Linked DNA regions of Homo sapiens: region 1 is linked to region 2. Evidence: fine-mapped expression QTL. Tissue or cell type: whole blood. Region 2 holds a variant in brackets; the other region holds the start of a gene. All regions are shown on one strand. Distances are between the middles of the regions.

What was found. PIP is the estimated chance that this variant, and not a neighbour inherited with it, causes the effect.
Region 1: it holds the start of SIGLEC10-AS1, and the variant in region 2 is fine-mapped to the expression of SIGLEC10-AS1 in whole blood (TOPMed, PIP above 0.99).

Annotation. Positions count from the first base shown.
Region 1 is chr19:51,411,687-51,419,765 of GRCh38, reverse strand. SIGLEC10-AS1 (SIGLEC10 antisense RNA 1) reads right to left here and starts at 4,042. Exons shown (of 3, transcript NR_164125.1): 1 at 3,634-4,042; 2 at 3,036-3,337; 3 at 1,569-2,634. SIGLEC10 (sialic acid binding Ig like lectin 10) reads left to right here and starts at 2,124. Exons shown (of 11, transcript NM_033130.5): 1 at 2,124-2,221; 2 at 2,301-2,684; 3 at 2,816-3,100; 4 at 3,409-3,456; 5 at 3,599-3,868; 6 at 4,151-4,198; 7 at 4,328-4,585; 8 at 4,658-4,942; 9 at 5,251-5,344; 10 at 5,943-6,054. The coding sequence starts at 2,185. RefSeq lists enhancers at 1,895-1,964, 2,025-2,194.
Region 2 is chr19:51,382,402-51,390,480 of GRCh38, reverse strand. It overlaps LIM2 (lens intrinsic membrane protein 2), which reads left to right and starts at 2,507. Exons shown (of 5, transcript NM_001161748.2): 1 at 2,507-2,562; 2 at 3,032-3,212; 3 at 7,914-8,063. The coding sequence starts at 3,038. It overlaps C19orf84 (chromosome 19 open reading frame 84), which reads left to right. Exons shown (of 2, transcript NM_001193623.2): 1 at 1-3; 2 at 972-2,192. The coding sequence ends at 1,497. LIM2-AS1 (LIM2 and SIGLEC10 antisense RNA 1) reads right to left here and starts at 3,373. Exons shown (of 2, transcript XR_002958397.2): 1 at 3,284-3,373; 2 at 3,110-3,193. The variant T/C (reference allele first, on the strand shown) is at 3,444.

The DNA of each region.
Region 1 (8,079 bases), 29 kb before region 2:
GGGAGGATCACTGGAGCCCAGGAGTTCAAGACCAGCCTGGCCAACATGGTGAAACTCTGTCTCAGCAAGGTGCAGTGGCTCACGCCTGTAATCCCAGCTCTTTGGGAGGCTGAGGCGGGTGGATCACCTGAGGTCAGGAGTTCGAGACCAGCCTGAACAACATGAAGAAACCCCATCTTTTCTAAAAATACAAAATCAGCCAGGCATGGTGGCGCATGTCTGTAGTCCCAGCTACTTGGGAGGCTGAGGCAGGAGAATCGCTTGAACCCCGGAGGTGGAGGTTGCAGTGAGCCAAGATCATGCTACTGCACTCCAGCCTGGGCAACAAGAGGGAAACTCCATCTCAAAAAACAAAAACAAACAAACAAACAAACACCTCTGTCTCTACAAAAATTATCAAAAAAAAAAATCAAAAATTATCTGGGCGTGGTGGTGTGTGCCTATAGTCCCGGCTAGTTGGGAGGCTGAGGTGGGAGGATCGCTTGAGCCCAGAAGATGGAGGCTGCACTGAGCCATGATCACACCACTGCACTCCAGCCTGGGCAACAGAGCAAGACCTTGTCTCAAAAACAAAAAACAAAAATGCCATGGATGAAAGAACCAGGACAGGGCAGAGGCTGGGTCATCTCCTCCAGGAGGCCTCTCCTGACTTCCCTCCACCAGGAAGAGCTGACCACTCCTTCCCCAGGTCCCATCCTGAATGTCTGTCCAGCATCCAGTTCATTTAGGGGACCTTCTGTACTTTGTTTCTAAGAATCTTCATTTGCTAACCTGGGGCCCTGGAGCTGACTCACCATGGAGGATTCACCTCCAAGTCCCCCTAAAGCTCAGTGCTTGATACCCAAGGTATGTGGAGGTTGAAGGATGAGTTCTGTGTTTCGGTGTGACCCAAACAGAGTCATTTCAGGAAGAGCTCAGTGAGGGGAAAACATCTTGTAGAGTTTACTCCATTCATTGCAAATTACCCCTTCCCTAGTCTGTTCCCCCCACTCTGCCCCTCACTCCCGCCTTCCTCAAACTCTTCCCATCAGCATTAGCTTTGGACATATGTGTTCTAATCCCAATGGGTGTCCCAATTGAATGACAGAGGAGGAAGGGAGACTGGGAAGTGGACTAGGGCCTGGTTGGGGCAGGAGACTGCTTCTGGGGACCAAGGGTCAGTGAGCTCACCAGGAAGCATGAAGAGGTGGAGCTGACACCACCCTACGGTGGCCAGATTTAGAAAAAAAGAAATTCAACATGCTCAGTTAAATTTGAATTTTAGGCCAGGTGCGGTGGTTCACACCTGTAATCTCAGCACTTTGGGAGGTCAAGGCAGGTGGATCATTTGAGGTCAGGAGTTCAAAACCAGCCCTGCCAACATGGTGAAACCCCACCTCTACTAAAAATACAAAAATTAGCTTGGCGTGGTGGCGCGTGCCTGTAAGCCCAGACTCAGGAGGCTGAGGCAGGAGAATCACTTCAGCCTGGGAGGTGGAGGTTGCAGTAAGCAGAGATTGCACCACTGCACTGCAGCCTGGGTGACAGAGTGAGACTCTGTCTCAAAATATAATTAATTAATTAATTAATTTGAATTTCAGATAAATTTATTTTGCTTTCTGGTATAAGTATATCCCATGCAGCATTTCGGACATACTTATACCAAAAAACATAAAATAAAATACTTTATATTGTCTGTGAAAGCTTTAACCAGGCATCCTGCATTTTACCTGACAAGACCAGCCCCCTCCAGTAACGGTCCCTTCCCCTGTACCCACCACCTCCACCACCAGTGGCCCAGATAAGGGTAGCTCACTGTGGACTTCTCACTTCTGCTTTTCCGATGACCCAGGGCCCAGAGGGAGAGCCCCCACCCCACTACCCCACCCCCAGCCAGGCCCCCAGGATAGACACAAGCCTGCCCTCTCCTCCTACACAGGGAGCTCTGGAAGGACCAGCTCAACAAGCCCAAGGCCAGGCTGGGCCCCCAGGAGACCCAGAGGACAACTGGGCAAGGTGGGCCGGAGAGTGTGGGGGAAGGCAAAGGAGTTCTGTGAGCTCAGCGTCTGAAGCTCATTTCATGCATCAGGCCCCAGGGCTCAGCTTCCGCCTTCGGCTTCCCCTTCTGCCAAGAGCCCTGAGCCACTCACAGCACGACCAGAGAACAGGCCTGTCTCAGGCAGGCCCTGCGCCTCCTATGCGGAGATGCTACTGCCACTGCTGCTGTCCTCGCTGCTGGGCGGTGAGTGGGCCAAGGGCCGGAAAGGACCTGGGGCGGAGCTAGGGCTGGGGTTGCAGGTTGAGCCTCTGTCTCCCCACAGGGTCCCAGGCTATGGATGGGAGATTCTGGATACGAGTGCAGGAGTCAGTGATGGTGCCGGAGGGCCTGTGCATCTCTGTGCCCTGCTCTTTCTCCTACCCCCGACAGGACTGGACAGGGTCTACCCCAGCTTATGGCTACTGGTTCAAAGCAGTGACTGAGACAACCAAGGGTGCTCCTGTGGCCACAAACCACCAGAGTCGAGAGGTGGAAATGAGCACCCGGGGCCGATTCCAGCTCACTGGGGATCCCGCCAAGGGGAACTGCTCCTTGGTGATCAGAGACGCGCAGATGCAGGATGAGTCACAGTACTTCTTTCGGGTGGAGAGAGGAAGCTATGTGAGATATAATTTCATGAACGATGGGTTCTTTCTAAAAGTAACAGGTATGGAATGGGGTGGGAACCCCTGCCTCTCACACTGGGGAGGGACCCTGGGGACAGCCTATGGGCTGAGCAGAGAGGGCTCTCAGGGACCCCTGCAGCACAAGAATCTCCCACCACGGTCTCTGTCCCAGCCCTGACTCAGAAGCCTGATGTCTACATCCCCGAGACCCTGGAGCCCGGGCAGCCGGTGACGGTCATCTGTGTGTTTAACTGGGCCTTTGAGGAATGTCCACCCCCTTCTTTCTCCTGGACGGGGGCTGCCCTCTCCTCCCAAGGAACCAAACCAACGACCTCCCACTTCTCAGTGCTCAGCTTCACGCCCAGACCCCAGGACCACAACACCGACCTCACCTGCCATGTGGACTTCTCCAGAAAGGGTGTGAGCGCACAGAGGACCGTCCGACTCCGTGTGGCCTGTGAGTGTGGCCTGGGAGGGTGGGGTGTGCAGACAGCCCCGGTGGGTGGGGAGGTGGAGGAGCCCAGTGGGACAGTGAGCGGCTCCCAGCTCAGGAGCATCCAGGGAGAGGAAGCTGTGGGGTCCCAGGATGCCGCCGCAGCCCTGGGAGGGGGATGGGAATGGCGTCTGGTCCACACACGTGAGCCCTGGCGCTGGTTGTCACTTGTCTTCCCGGGATAGTCCCACTTTCTTTTCCCTGAGGGAGTTTTTTCCAGGTGTGAGGAATAAATTGTCCCTCCCTGAAGCCAGCTCACAATCTTGTTGCAGATGCCCCCAGAGACCTTGTTATCAGCATTTCACGTGACAACACGCCAGGTACTGAGGGCCGTCGGGCTGGGGCTGGGCCAGTTGTCTTTAGATGAAAAGGCTTCAGGGGATGAGGGGATGTGCTCCTCCCTGTACCCCTTCTCTCTTTCTCCCTCCCTTTCTCTCTTTTTTTTTTTTCCTCCCACTCCAGCCCTGGAGCCCCAGCCCCAGGGAAATGTCCCATACCTGGAAGCCCAAAAAGGCCAGTTCCTGCGGCTCCTCTGTGCTGCTGACAGCCAGCCCCCTGCCACACTGAGCTGGGTCCTGCAGAACAGAGTCCTCTCCTCGTCCCATCCCTGGGGCCCTAGACCCCTGGGGCTGGAGCTGCCCGGGGTGAAGGCTGGGGATTCAGGGCGCTACACCTGCCGAGCGGAGAACAGGCTTGGCTCCCAGCAGCGAGCCCTGGACCTCTCTGTGCAGTGTGAGTGTGCCCAGCAGGGGCCTGGAGTCCATTGGGAGGGCAGAGGGATACAGGGGCTGGGCTCAGGGTCCCAGAGCTGAGGGGGCCTGGAGCCCCAGGCCTCGGAGACCGACCTTCTTACCTGTGTAGACCCTCATGCAGTTTGTGTCTGGGACTCAGTGGGTGATTCTGCCCTGCCCTTCTATCCCACCCACTTCCCCCACCTCAGTGTCCAGGATGGTTCCCTTTACCCAGAGGGAAGCCCCTGGTCCGTCTAGAGCCGGTCCCCTGTCTCCATTTCAGATCCTCCAGAGAACCTGAGAGTGATGGTTTCCCAAGCAAACAGGACAGGTAGGAAAGGGGACAGAGGAGCCAAGGCCTCTCAGTGCCGAATTGGGGGCCCAGGAGTCTGGAGGGTCCCCACGCAGGAGGGTCCCTGAGCCCTGAGCTGCTCATCGATTCTGCCTCTTCCTTCCCTAGTCCTGGAAAACCTTGGGAACGGCACGTCTCTCCCAGTACTGGAGGGCCAAAGCCTGTGCCTGGTCTGTGTCACACACAGCAGCCCCCCAGCCAGGCTGAGCTGGACCCAGAGGGGACAGGTTCTGAGCCCCTCCCAGCCCTCAGACCCCGGGGTCCTGGAGCTGCCTCGGGTTCAAGTGGAGCACGAAGGAGAGTTCACCTGCCACGCTCGGCACCCACTGGGCTCCCAGCACGTCTCTCTCAGCCTCTCCGTGCACTGTGAGTGGGGGAAAGGGGACACCTGGGTCCCAGGAAGGGGACCCTGCTGAGTCCTGTCCTCCCTCCCCTCAGACTCCCCGAAGCTGCTGGGCCCCTCCTGCTCCTGGGAGGCTGAGGGTCTGCACTGCAGCTGCTCCTCCCAGGCCAGCCCGGCCCCCTCTCTGCGCTGGTGGCTTGGGGAGGAGCTGCTGGAGGGGAACAGCAGCCAGGACTCCTTCGAGGTCACCCCCAGCTCAGCCGGGCCCTGGGCCAACAGCTCCCTGAGCCTCCATGGAGGGCTCAGCTCCGGCCTCAGGCTCCGCTGTGAGGCCTGGAACGTCCATGGGGCCCAGAGTGGATCCATCCTGCAGCTGCCAGGTTAGGGGGCCGCCTGGATGCCAAGGTTCTTGGAGGAGAAGCTGACTGGGGCAAAGAGTAGGGTCCTGTGGTTGGAGCAGGAGCTTGGAGGGACACAGCAGACCCGTGGCATCTGTATGTAGACAGGAAAACACAATGGGAAGTCCTAACACCTGGGCCGGGGTGTGGCAGGGTTTCCTAAAAGTAAACAGAGGGGTTGCAGATACAATGTCCGCCATGGGAACCGGAAGCCTTAATGCCGAGTGATGAGCGGGCTTCGTGAGCCCTGCGTGGATGGGAAATGCTCACCTTGCCCTCTCCGTGTGCAGATAAGAAGGGACTCATCTCAACGGCATTCTCCAACGGAGCGTTTCTGGGAATCGGCATCACGGCTCTTCTTTTCCTCTGCCTGGCCCTGATCATGTAGGTTAAGAGGAGGCGTGGCGGGGTCTGGGGCCTGGACCCAGGAAGAGGGGAGGTGTTGCAGGCCGAAAGAGTGAAGGTCGTGATCAACGCAGTATACCTCTGGAGGTTACATGAGTAAACAGCAAACTGTTCTCATAAATGCAGAATGTTGTCCAACTGACAAACTGCGTCTGCTTCCCAGAGGGAATGCTGAGGGCAGTCACGCCCCAAGCGAAGTGTTTCTTGTAATTAGGCACAGCTGAAGCTTGTTAGTAATAATATGAACCTGTGATCAATTAAACAGCTGACCAATTGTTACCTCCTGCTCTCTGCTCTTTCTACCCAATAAATACAAAGGGCTGTAGAGGCTCAGACAGCTGCCCTGGCTCACTAGTAGCAGGGAACCCTCTTCTTCTTCCCCTGACCCCTTCCTTTAAAATAATTTCTTTTGTCTTAAGTTTTCATTTCTACGTTTGTCCTCCTTCTTTCAGTCTCATAATGACGGTCTCAAGTGGTAACAGTAGTAACTGTCATAGTGACGGTCTCAGGTAGTAAACGTGGCAGTCTGTCACAGGGAGGTGCAGCAGGGCACAAACAGGTGGGTTCATTTCCTCAGCATGAAGATTCTACCGAAGAGACGGACTCAGACAGAAACCCCGAGGCCCAGGTTCTCCCGGCACAGCACGATCCTGGATTACATCAATGTGGTCCCGACGGCTGGCCCCCTGGTGAGTGTCTGGGCCATGCTTCCACTTTTTCTCTTCTCTAAAGCTGACATCCCACTTTCTGACTTTTGCACCCCTTGTCTTAGCGACATCAAGGTGGGAAAAGCACCGATAGTTCTGAATTCAAATCCTGCCTGGCACTTACTAGCTATGAGACCTCAGCCACGTCACTCACCCCCTCTGAGCCTTCATTTCTTCCTCTGTCTCCTTTGAGAGTTGGTTTGAGGATTAGAATACATGCACTTTCTCAATCTGTAGCCATTGTTCCATTATTACTGCCACCATTGACATGACTACACTTAACTGCTTAACAATTATGTGTATCATCGGGAGGCTGGGCATCCTAGGGATTCAGCACAGGGGGTCTGAAATCAGCCTGCATGGGTTCAAATCCTGCTGTCATCACTGTGTCATGAAACAAGTGTCTTAACTTCTCTGTGCCTCAATTTCTTTAGCTGTAACATGGAGACAATACTAGCGGCCACCTCCTAGGATGATGCTGGGTGTTAAATATATTGTACTTGCATAATAAAATATTCAGAATATCACCTGGCCCCTGGGTAATACTCTGTAAATTCTGGAAATTATTAAGAGATAACATCTTATGCTGATGACTGCAAAATTGTATCTCGTGGCTCCTTCCCTGAAGACTGTCTATGCAACATCTCCATGTGGGTGTCTAATCAGCACTTCAAACTTAGCCTGTCCAAAACCAACTTAAGATAATTCCCCAGCCTGAGCAACATAGTGAGACCTCTTCTCTACAAAAAAAATAAAAAATTAGCCGGGTGTGGTGGTGCATGCCCATTGTCCCAGCTACTTGGGAGGCTGAGGTGGGAGGATCTCTTGAGCCTGGGAGTTGGAGGCTACAGTGAGCCATGATGACACCATGCACTCCAGCCTGGGTGACAGAGTGAGACCCTGTCTCAAAAAAAAAAAGGCCACGCCTGCTGGCTCACACCTGTAATCCCAGCACTTTGGGAGGCCGAGGTGGGTGGATCGCCTGAGGTCAAAATTTTAAGAGCAGCGTGTTCAACATGGTGAAACCCCATCTCTACTAAACATACAAAAAATTACCTGGGCATGGTGATGGGTGCCTGTAATCACAGCTACTCGGGAGGCTGAGGCAGGAGAATTACTTGAACCCAGGAGGTGGAGGTTGCAGTGAGATCATGCCACTGCACTCCAGCCTGGGCAACAAGAGCGAAACTTCATCTAAAAAAAAAAAAAGACTAATTCCACCATTTATGCTCCATCTCTATCCCCATCTTAGCAAATAACACCACATTTTCCCAGCCAAGTCTAAAGCTTTAGAATCATATTTCACTCCTCTCTTCTCTGTCACCCCACAACCAATCCATCAGCAAATTCCCTTCAAAATACAACCAAGCCAGTTCTCCCTACTCTTCCCTCACTACTACAAGCCATGCATCAACACCCCCCACCCCACCCCGGGCACCACTGGCCCCTTCTGCATGCCTTCTCTGCTTCCGTTCTCACCCCCTCCAGTCTTTCTCTCCGTGCATGCATGCTATTCTTTATTTTATTTATTTTTATTTTATTTTATTTTTTGAGATGGGATTTCACTGTTGTTGTCTAGGCTGGAGTGCAGTGGCAAGGTCTCGGCTCACTGCAACCTCCACCTCCTGGTTCAAGCGATTCATCTGCCTCAGCCTCCTGAGTAGCTGGGATTACAGGCATCCACCACCATGCCCCCCTAATTTTTGTATTTTTAGTAGAGACGGGGTTTCACCATGTTGATCAGGCTGGTCTCAAACTCCTGACCTCAGGTGATCCACCCGCCTCAGCCTCCCAAAGTGCTGGGATTACAGGTGTGAACCACCGTACCCGGCTATCAATTATTTTTTTGAAACAGATTTTGTCTCTGTTGTCCGGGCTGGAGTGCAGTGGCGCAGTCTCAGCGCACTACAACCTCCACCTCTCAGGTTCAAGTGATTTTCCTGCCTCAGCCTCCTGAGTAGCTGGGACCACAGGCATGTGTCACCACGCCCGGCTAATTTTTGTATT
Region 2 (8,079 bases):
AGGGTGAGACAAACAAAGACCTCCTGAGAGGGGGACAGAGACCCAGAGAGAGGAGGGGACAGAGAAAACGAGAGAGAAAGGGCGCGCTGAACAGACCTGCATAGAGAATCAGGAAAAACAAAAAAGGCTCAGGTATCATCACATAGGTACAGAATCTTAGAAGATCTTGGTGAGAGTTGAGCGAGATACTTAGAAACAGGCGGAGGCCGGGTGCAGTGGCTTATGCCTGTAATCCCAGCACTTTGGGAGGCCGAGGCGGGTGGATCACATGAGGTCGGGAGTTCGAGACCAGCCTGACCAACATGGAGAAATCTGTCTCTCCTAAAAATACAAAATTAGACGGGCGTGGTGGTGCGTGCCTGTAATCCCAGGTACTCGACAGGCTGAGGCAGGAGAATCGCTTGAACCCGAGAGGCAGAGGTTGCGTTGAGCCAAGTTAGCGCCATTGCACTCCAGTCTGGGCAACAAGAGTGAAACCCCATCTCAAAAAAAAAAAAGAGCTAGAAACAGATACTCATCGAACAGAAATTTCCAAGAATAAACCAAGAAATGTGAAGACTCCAGGGATCCCCAGAAGGCTGGAGAAATCGTAGCTGTCCACTGTTTTAGCACTTACCAGACCCAGCGCTGTCATACGCACCTTTGATACCATCCAAAGCCATCTGTGACTATAAACAAATTAAGGTTCGGAATAGGAAAATGATTTGTCCAAAGATACACCACCAAAAGCGAGGCCACCAGGAATTGGAACTGAGTTCTGTCTGGTGCCGAAGTTCATGGCAGAGCTGTCTGTTTCTTTAGAGAGACCCGGGTTAGAAACAAAAAGAGAGAAGCGGGGGAGGAAGTCACAGGTGGGCACTGAGGATGGAGAGATGGCTGCCTTCTGCAGAGGTGCAGAGACAGCCTGGCAGCGAGAAACAAGAAAGTACGGAGACGCTGAGCCCCACTGACCTGTCTTTTTGTTGTTCTAGGAACAACCTGTCCCTGCCGTCATCTGGGACCGAGCCATGGCCCCCTGCGCCTCTCCCAGCCCCTCCACCCTTGCTCCTGAACTCCACAGACCCCACCCACCTGGGGCTCCCGGAGAGCGTGGCCTCTGTCACCGTGCCCATACGCCTGGACACCCTCTCCTGCCTCCTGCACAGCGCCCTGCTGGGGGCCTACACCTTCCAACAGGCCTTGCCCTCTTGCCCCTGCTGCTCCCAGGCAGGCCACTCCCAGCCGGGGGCAGTTAGGAGGCCTCCCAGGGGACGCGGAGGCTGGGAAGTCAGGCACAGGCCAGGCTGGGGCCGAGGCCTGCATCGACGGGGCCTTGGGAGAGCTGAGCAGCCAGAGAGGGGCCGGGCGGGGGGCCCTGGGGCTGGCCCCAGGACCCCACCAATGACACTGCCATCACCACCAACACTGCCTGCCCAGGATGGGAAGAAAGAAGCTCGAGGTCCAGAGCCACCCCTGGAAACACCACTGGCTGCTGAGGACTGGGAGACAGAGTACTAGGACCTTGGAGGGTCAGGCACCTGAGATTGCAGTCACCCAGGAGGGTTTTCCTGGGGCCCAGAGTGATCTCAGCCCTGTCAGAAGAACCCCAAGAAACATCTTCCATCCTCCCCTCTCCCCAAAACCACAATCCCAGGAGTAGCTCCTGTGAGGCACTTGGTGAACCTGACCTAAGTCACCTGAATCCCAAGTGAGAAGAAAATCCTAAACCTCGTACCCAAACCTGTCTCCTTGATGGCCTCAACCCCATTCCCAATGCCATCCCCAACCACAACCACAATCCTTACCTCATTCTCAACCCCCAGGGCTCCTCCAACCCCATTCCCTATCCTCTCCCTAATCCCAAAGCCACTCCTACCTGCCTCTCTCTTCCCCACTCTCAATACCCTGTTCCCAAACCCATTCATTCCCATCCCTGTCACCAGTCCCAGCTCCACTTCTGCGCCTCAACCCTAACCCACCCTCTTTACCAACCCCTTTCTCCTCATTGCCTGTGTACCTCAGCCCATCTTTAATGTCCTCTGAATCTACAGCCCCAAAGAGCTCCATCCTCAACCTCAGCCACAGCCCTGTGTCCATCCCCACAAAGAACCGCATTGGCCCCACATACCCAGACACCTGTGACTCCCCACCCCACTGCCTGCTCTTCAGGTAGAAAGCCCTGGTTGAACAATAAACGCATGACTCTCCCTGAATCTTGCGTGTGTGCGCGCGCCCGTGTGTGTGTGTGTGTGTGCGTGTGTGCGTGCTTACACAGCTCGGACAAAGCCAGGGTTGCTTTGAGCAAGGCTGGCGACAAGGTATTGGGTTCCGGGGAGGGTCACAGAGGTCAGTGAGTGGGTGGGGGGAGCCCCCTGGATGCCTGCTTCAGCGAATTCCATTTGAGGCCTCTGCCACCGCTGCATTTCTGCCTGCTGGAAGCTGCTGGGTAGTGGGACCATTGTGTAGGGAGGCTTAAGGGATTTGGGGAACCTAAGGGGGCAAAGAGGCCAGTGACCAGGCTCAGCTCAGTCTGCACAGAGGGGCCGTGGCAGAAGGAGGGCTCGGGCAGGCTCTGCCACTCAGGTAGGCACCAGGCGTGAGACCTGTAGCCCCCTCTTCCCCAAGTCCCAGGAGTCTAGGGTCCCAGCTCCTTCTTCTCCCAGGACCTGGTGTCCTACCCCCTAGCCCCTAGCCCCTTCCTTACCCACCACCCAGGAATCCAGGCTCCTGGGCCCCTTCTCACCTAGGACTCAGGAAGCTAGGCCTCCAGCCTATTCCTTGCTCAGAACCTGGAAGTCCAGGCCCCCGGCCTTTTCTTCCCAGAACCCAGCCCCGCTCTCCCTGTTGTCTTTCCAGGATCCCTACCATCCTCCTCCCTCAGACCCAGGAGTCCGGGCTCCAGTCCCCTCCTCGCCCAGGACCCAGGCGTCTAGGTCTCCATCTCCTTCTCCCAAGCACTTGGCATCCCACTCCTGAGCCCTCTCTCCCCCCAGTTCCTCCCTTCAAGTCCCGGGAATTCAGCTCCCAATCCCATCTCTCCCCTTCCCCACAGATCACCATGTACAGCTTCATGGGTGGTGGCCTGTTCTGTGCCTGGGTGGGGACCATCCTCCTGGTGGTGGCCATGGCAACAGACCACTGGATGCAGTACCGGCTGTCAGGGTCCTTCGCCCACCAGGGCCTGTGGCGGTACTGCCTGGGCAACAAGTGCTACCTGCAGACAGACAGCATCGGTGAGCCCCCCGGCCAGGGTCCAGGCCGCGCCTGGGGAAAGAGCAGGGCGGACCTCGGGGCCCAAGGACACCTGTATTCCAGATGGAGAACTCTGCGGCTCAAAGAGGGAAAGGGAGCAACCCAAGGTCACTCAGCATGGAGGGGGCAGAACTGGGACTACAGGGTTGTTTTCTAGCTGCAGTTTCACGGGGTGCTGGTTTGAAGGTTAAGTTGGGAGAGGTGGCATTTCC[T/C]GACGCTTCAGAGGTGTCATGCACAGCAATTGGGGCTAGTGTCACGAAACAGCATTTTCTAAATATGTACTATGGACCAAGAACTATGTTAGGTACTGGTGGATACTGAATTTGCTAAATACTGCATAAAGTAGCATAAAGTATTTTTGCCTACTTATAATGTGCCAGGCCATAGATAGAGAGATACATAGAGATATATAGTATATTGCTTGCTGCATAGCATCTATAATATATTAAGTTAATGTATACTATATTATGTGTAATATATGCAATTTATATTATTACATATAATTTATGATGTATTATATATAACTACATATAGACAATAATATACAGTATAGTGTATTATACATGCACCTCTATTATATAATAAATTACTAATACATAATATATTGTATATAATATGCTACATATTATATAAGTAATGCACATGTAATATATTATATATGATGTAGAATCCATTATATTACACATTCATTATCTAATAAATAGTATATGTCATGACATTATATAATAAATTAATAATGTATATATTATACAATATATTATATAATAAATTAATAATGTAGAGTATATTATATTGCACACTTATTATATAACATATTAATAAATTTGGCCAGGCGTGGTGGCTCACGTCTGTAATCCCAGCACTTCGGGAGGCTGAGGTGGGCGGATCACCTGAGGTCAGGAGTTCAAGATTAGCCTGGCAAAAAAGGTGAAACCCGGTCTCTACTAAAAATACAAAAATTAGCCAGGCATGGTGGTGAGCACCTGTAATCCCAGCTACTCAGGAGGCTGAGGCAGGAAAATCGCTTGAACCTGGGAGGCGGAGACTGCAGTGGGCCCAGATGGCACCACTGCACTCCAGCCTGGACAACAGACGAAGACTCTGTCTAAAAAATAAATAAAAATTAATTAATAATATATAATATATTGTGTATTACTACTAGTAACAGTAATAATAATAACTGGCATTGATTGAGTGCTTACTATGCCCTATGTGCTATTCTAAGCACTTTACATGGATAAACTCACTTCCATCCCCAACAACACTACGGGCAGTTCAATTGTATGTAAGAGTGAGACATGAGATTTGATCTCAAAATTCAAACATCCTCTTGAGTAGCTGAGAAGAAGAGCTAAGCGTCACTGAGTGCCGGACGTGACAGGCATGGGAGACTTCGCCCACTCATCTCTCCCGGAGCCAGCCCTGAGAGAGAGGCAGGACGATGCCTGTTTGCTGGAGAGGTAGACTGAGGCAGGGAGAAGTGAAAAGACTTGCCTTGGGCCATCAGCTTCAGAGTCCGCTCTGCCTGACTCCACACATCCTTCTCCTTTCTGGCTGTCTCATTTGTGACACTTCTACATTTCTCCTGCTTCGGGCTGGGAATTCCCCGAGGGACAGCCCTGAGCCACCTCTCTGTCTTATCTCTGCCAGGGATGCAGGAGACAGGGAGCCTTGGTGAAGGTCTTTCGTTTTTTCGTTTGTTTGTTTTTGTTTTGTTTTGTTTTGTTTCAGACAGAGTCTCGCTCTGTCACCCCTGCCAGAGTGCAATGGCACTATCTCGGCTCACTGTAACCTCTGCCTCCTGGGTTCAAGCAATTCTCCTTGCCTCAGCCTCCCGAGTAGCTGGGATTACAGGCGCCCAAAACCATGCCTGGCTAATTTTTGTATTTTAGTAGAGACAGGATTTGACCATGTTGGCCAGGCTGGTCTCGAACTCCTGACCTCAGGTGATCCACCCGCCTCGGCCTCCCAAAGTGCTGGGATTATAGGCATGAGCCACCGAACTTGGCCTCATTATTTCATTTGATTTGATTTTTGTAGAGACAGCATCTCACTGTATTGCCCAGGCTTGTTTCAAACTCCCGGCTTCAGATGGACGTGGTGGCTCAGCCTGGAATCCCAGCACTTCGGGAGGCTGAGGTAGGAGGATCACTTGAGCCTAGGTGTTTGAGACCAGCCTGTGCAACGTAAGGAGACCCCATCTCAACAAAAAATAAAAAATTAGCTGGGCGTGGTGGTGTGCTCCCGTGGCCCCAGCTGCTCAGAAGGCTGAAGTGGGAGGATCACTTGAGCCCAGAAGTTTAAGGCTGCAGTGAGCTAAGATAGAGCCACTGCACTCCAGCCTGGGTGACAGAGCAAGACCCTGTCTCAAAAAATAATAATAAGATAAAATAAATAATCAAAAAGAAACCCTCCTGGCCTCAAGCAATCCTCCTGCCTCGGCCTCCCAAAGTGCTGGGATTCCAGGCCTGAGCCGCTGTGACCAGCCTGAATTAGTGTGCTAGGGATGCCATAAAAAAGCCCCACAGACTGGGTGGCTTGAACAACAGAAACGTGTTGTCTCACAGTTCTGGAGGCCGAGATGAAGATGTGGGCAAAATCAGTTCCTTCTGAGGGCTGTGAGGGAGAATCTGTTCCATGTCCCTCCCTCCCTGGCTTCTGGTGATTTTCTGGGAATCTTTGGTGTTTCTTGGTTTGGAGATGCATCACCCCAATTTCTACCTTCCTCACACATGGCATTTTTCCTAAAAGCATGTCTGTGTCCAGATTCCTCTTTTTATAAGGACGGCAGTCTTTGTTTTATGTTTTGTTTTGTTTTTGAGTTGGAGTCTCGCTCTGCCACCCAGGCTGGAGGGCAGTGGAATGATCTTGGCTCACTGCAACCTCCACCTCCCGGGTTCAAGTGATTCTCCTGCCTCAGCCTCCTGAGTAGCTGGGATTACAGGTGCCCACCACCAAGCCTGGCTAATTTTTGTATTTTTAGTAGAGACAGGGTTTCTCCATTTTGGCTAGGCTGGTCTCAAACTCCTGACCTCAGGTGATCCACCTGCCTTGGCTTCCCAAAGTGCTGGGATTACACTGGGCAGGAGCCACCACACCCAGCCCAGTCTTTGGATTAGAGCCCCACCCTACTCTAGCATGATCTCGTCTTAACTAATTATATTTGCAAAGACTCTATTGCCAAATAAGTTACCATTCTAAGGCACTAGTTACAATTTCAACATAAACATTTGAGGCGGGGGACAGAAAGGCATAACCCATAAAATCCATGGAGAAACAGCCAGGAATTTCTCTCACCGAGGCTTCTACAAGGCAGAAGACTGGGTTTTACAAAGATCCTAGACTTTTTACTTTTCAATGGCAAGATGCAAGGTTTGAGGTGCACCATTTCCCAGGTGCTCCAGCAGACAGAATAGCCAAGCAGTTAGGAGCGTGGGCCTTGGAGCTTGGATTCTGACTCCAGCCCTGTTTCTAATTATGAGACTTCGGGCAAGTCACTTTACCTCTCTGGGCCTCCATTTCTTCACTTGAAAAAGAAGCATAAAAATGGTACTTATAGAGTAGGGCTCTGGAGGAATAAACAACATCACACCTGGGTAGCGAGCCTGGCATATAGTTAGCCGTTGCTAAAGGATGAAGAGATTATTATTATCTTTCCTGAGGGGCCATCCCTGGGCAAAGCACAAGAGAAGAATGGCCCCGGTGCTCAACATTAATTCATTTCACGCATTTATTGGGCACCTATTATGCACCAGGTGTAGGTGCTGGGGACACAGTGGTGAATGAGAAAGCAAGGTGCTTGTCCTTGAGAGCTAAGGATTTACTGAGGAGAGACAGACATTATAAATAAGTTAAAAACAAGTAAATAGGACATTTTCAGATATAAGCAAGTAGTATAAAATAAATGAAAGAGTAGGCTGGGCGCAGTGGCTCACACCTGTAATCTCAGCACTTTGGGAGGCCAAGGCAGGTGGATCACTTGGGGCCAGGAGTTTGAGACCAGCCTGGCCAACATGGCAAAATGCCGTCTCTACTAAAAATACAAAAATTATCCGGGCATGGTGGTGCGCACCTGTAGTCCCAGCTACTCGGGACCCTGAGGAAGGAGAATCGTTTGAACCTCAGAGGTGGAGGCTGCAGTGAGCTGAGATTGTGCCACAGCACTTCAGCCTGGGTGGCAGAGGAAGACTCGGTCTCAAAAAAAAAAAAAAAAAAAAAAAAAGAAAAGAAAAAAAAAGAAATGTGAGAGAGAATAGTAATTAGTAGGAAAATATAAGGAATCAGCATTCATTCATTCATTCATTCAACAAACATTTCCCAAGGCCAGAATGCAAACCAAATGTGTGGTGGGGGTGTTTATGACACAGAACCAACCCACCGCCTGTCTTCAAGGAGCAATCAGGCTGGAGGGGGAGACAGACAAAGAGAGTCACAACCCTTAGCCGTGGGTGAAGATGATGACTGAGGGGTGGGGAGATGCTTCCTAGAGGATGGGTCACGGGAGCTGTGCTTTGGAGGATGAGTAGGAGTTTGCCAGGTGAAGAAGAGGGCATTTGCAAAGAAGGGAAGGATGAGCTGGGTTAGGGATATGGAAAGGGGCAAGGCATTTTCATCTCAGAGGTAGCAGCATCTCTCACTTAGAGCAGGGGAGGTGTGGGAATGACCATGGGGTGCTCCCACAGCATACTGGAATGCCACCCGGGCCTTCATGATCCTGTCTGCCCTATGCGCCATCTCCGGCATCATCATGGGCATCATGGCCTTCGCTCATCAGCCTACCTTCTCCCGCATCTCCCGGCCCTTCTCTGCTGGCATCATGTTTTTTTCCTCAAGTGAGTAAGCCCACCC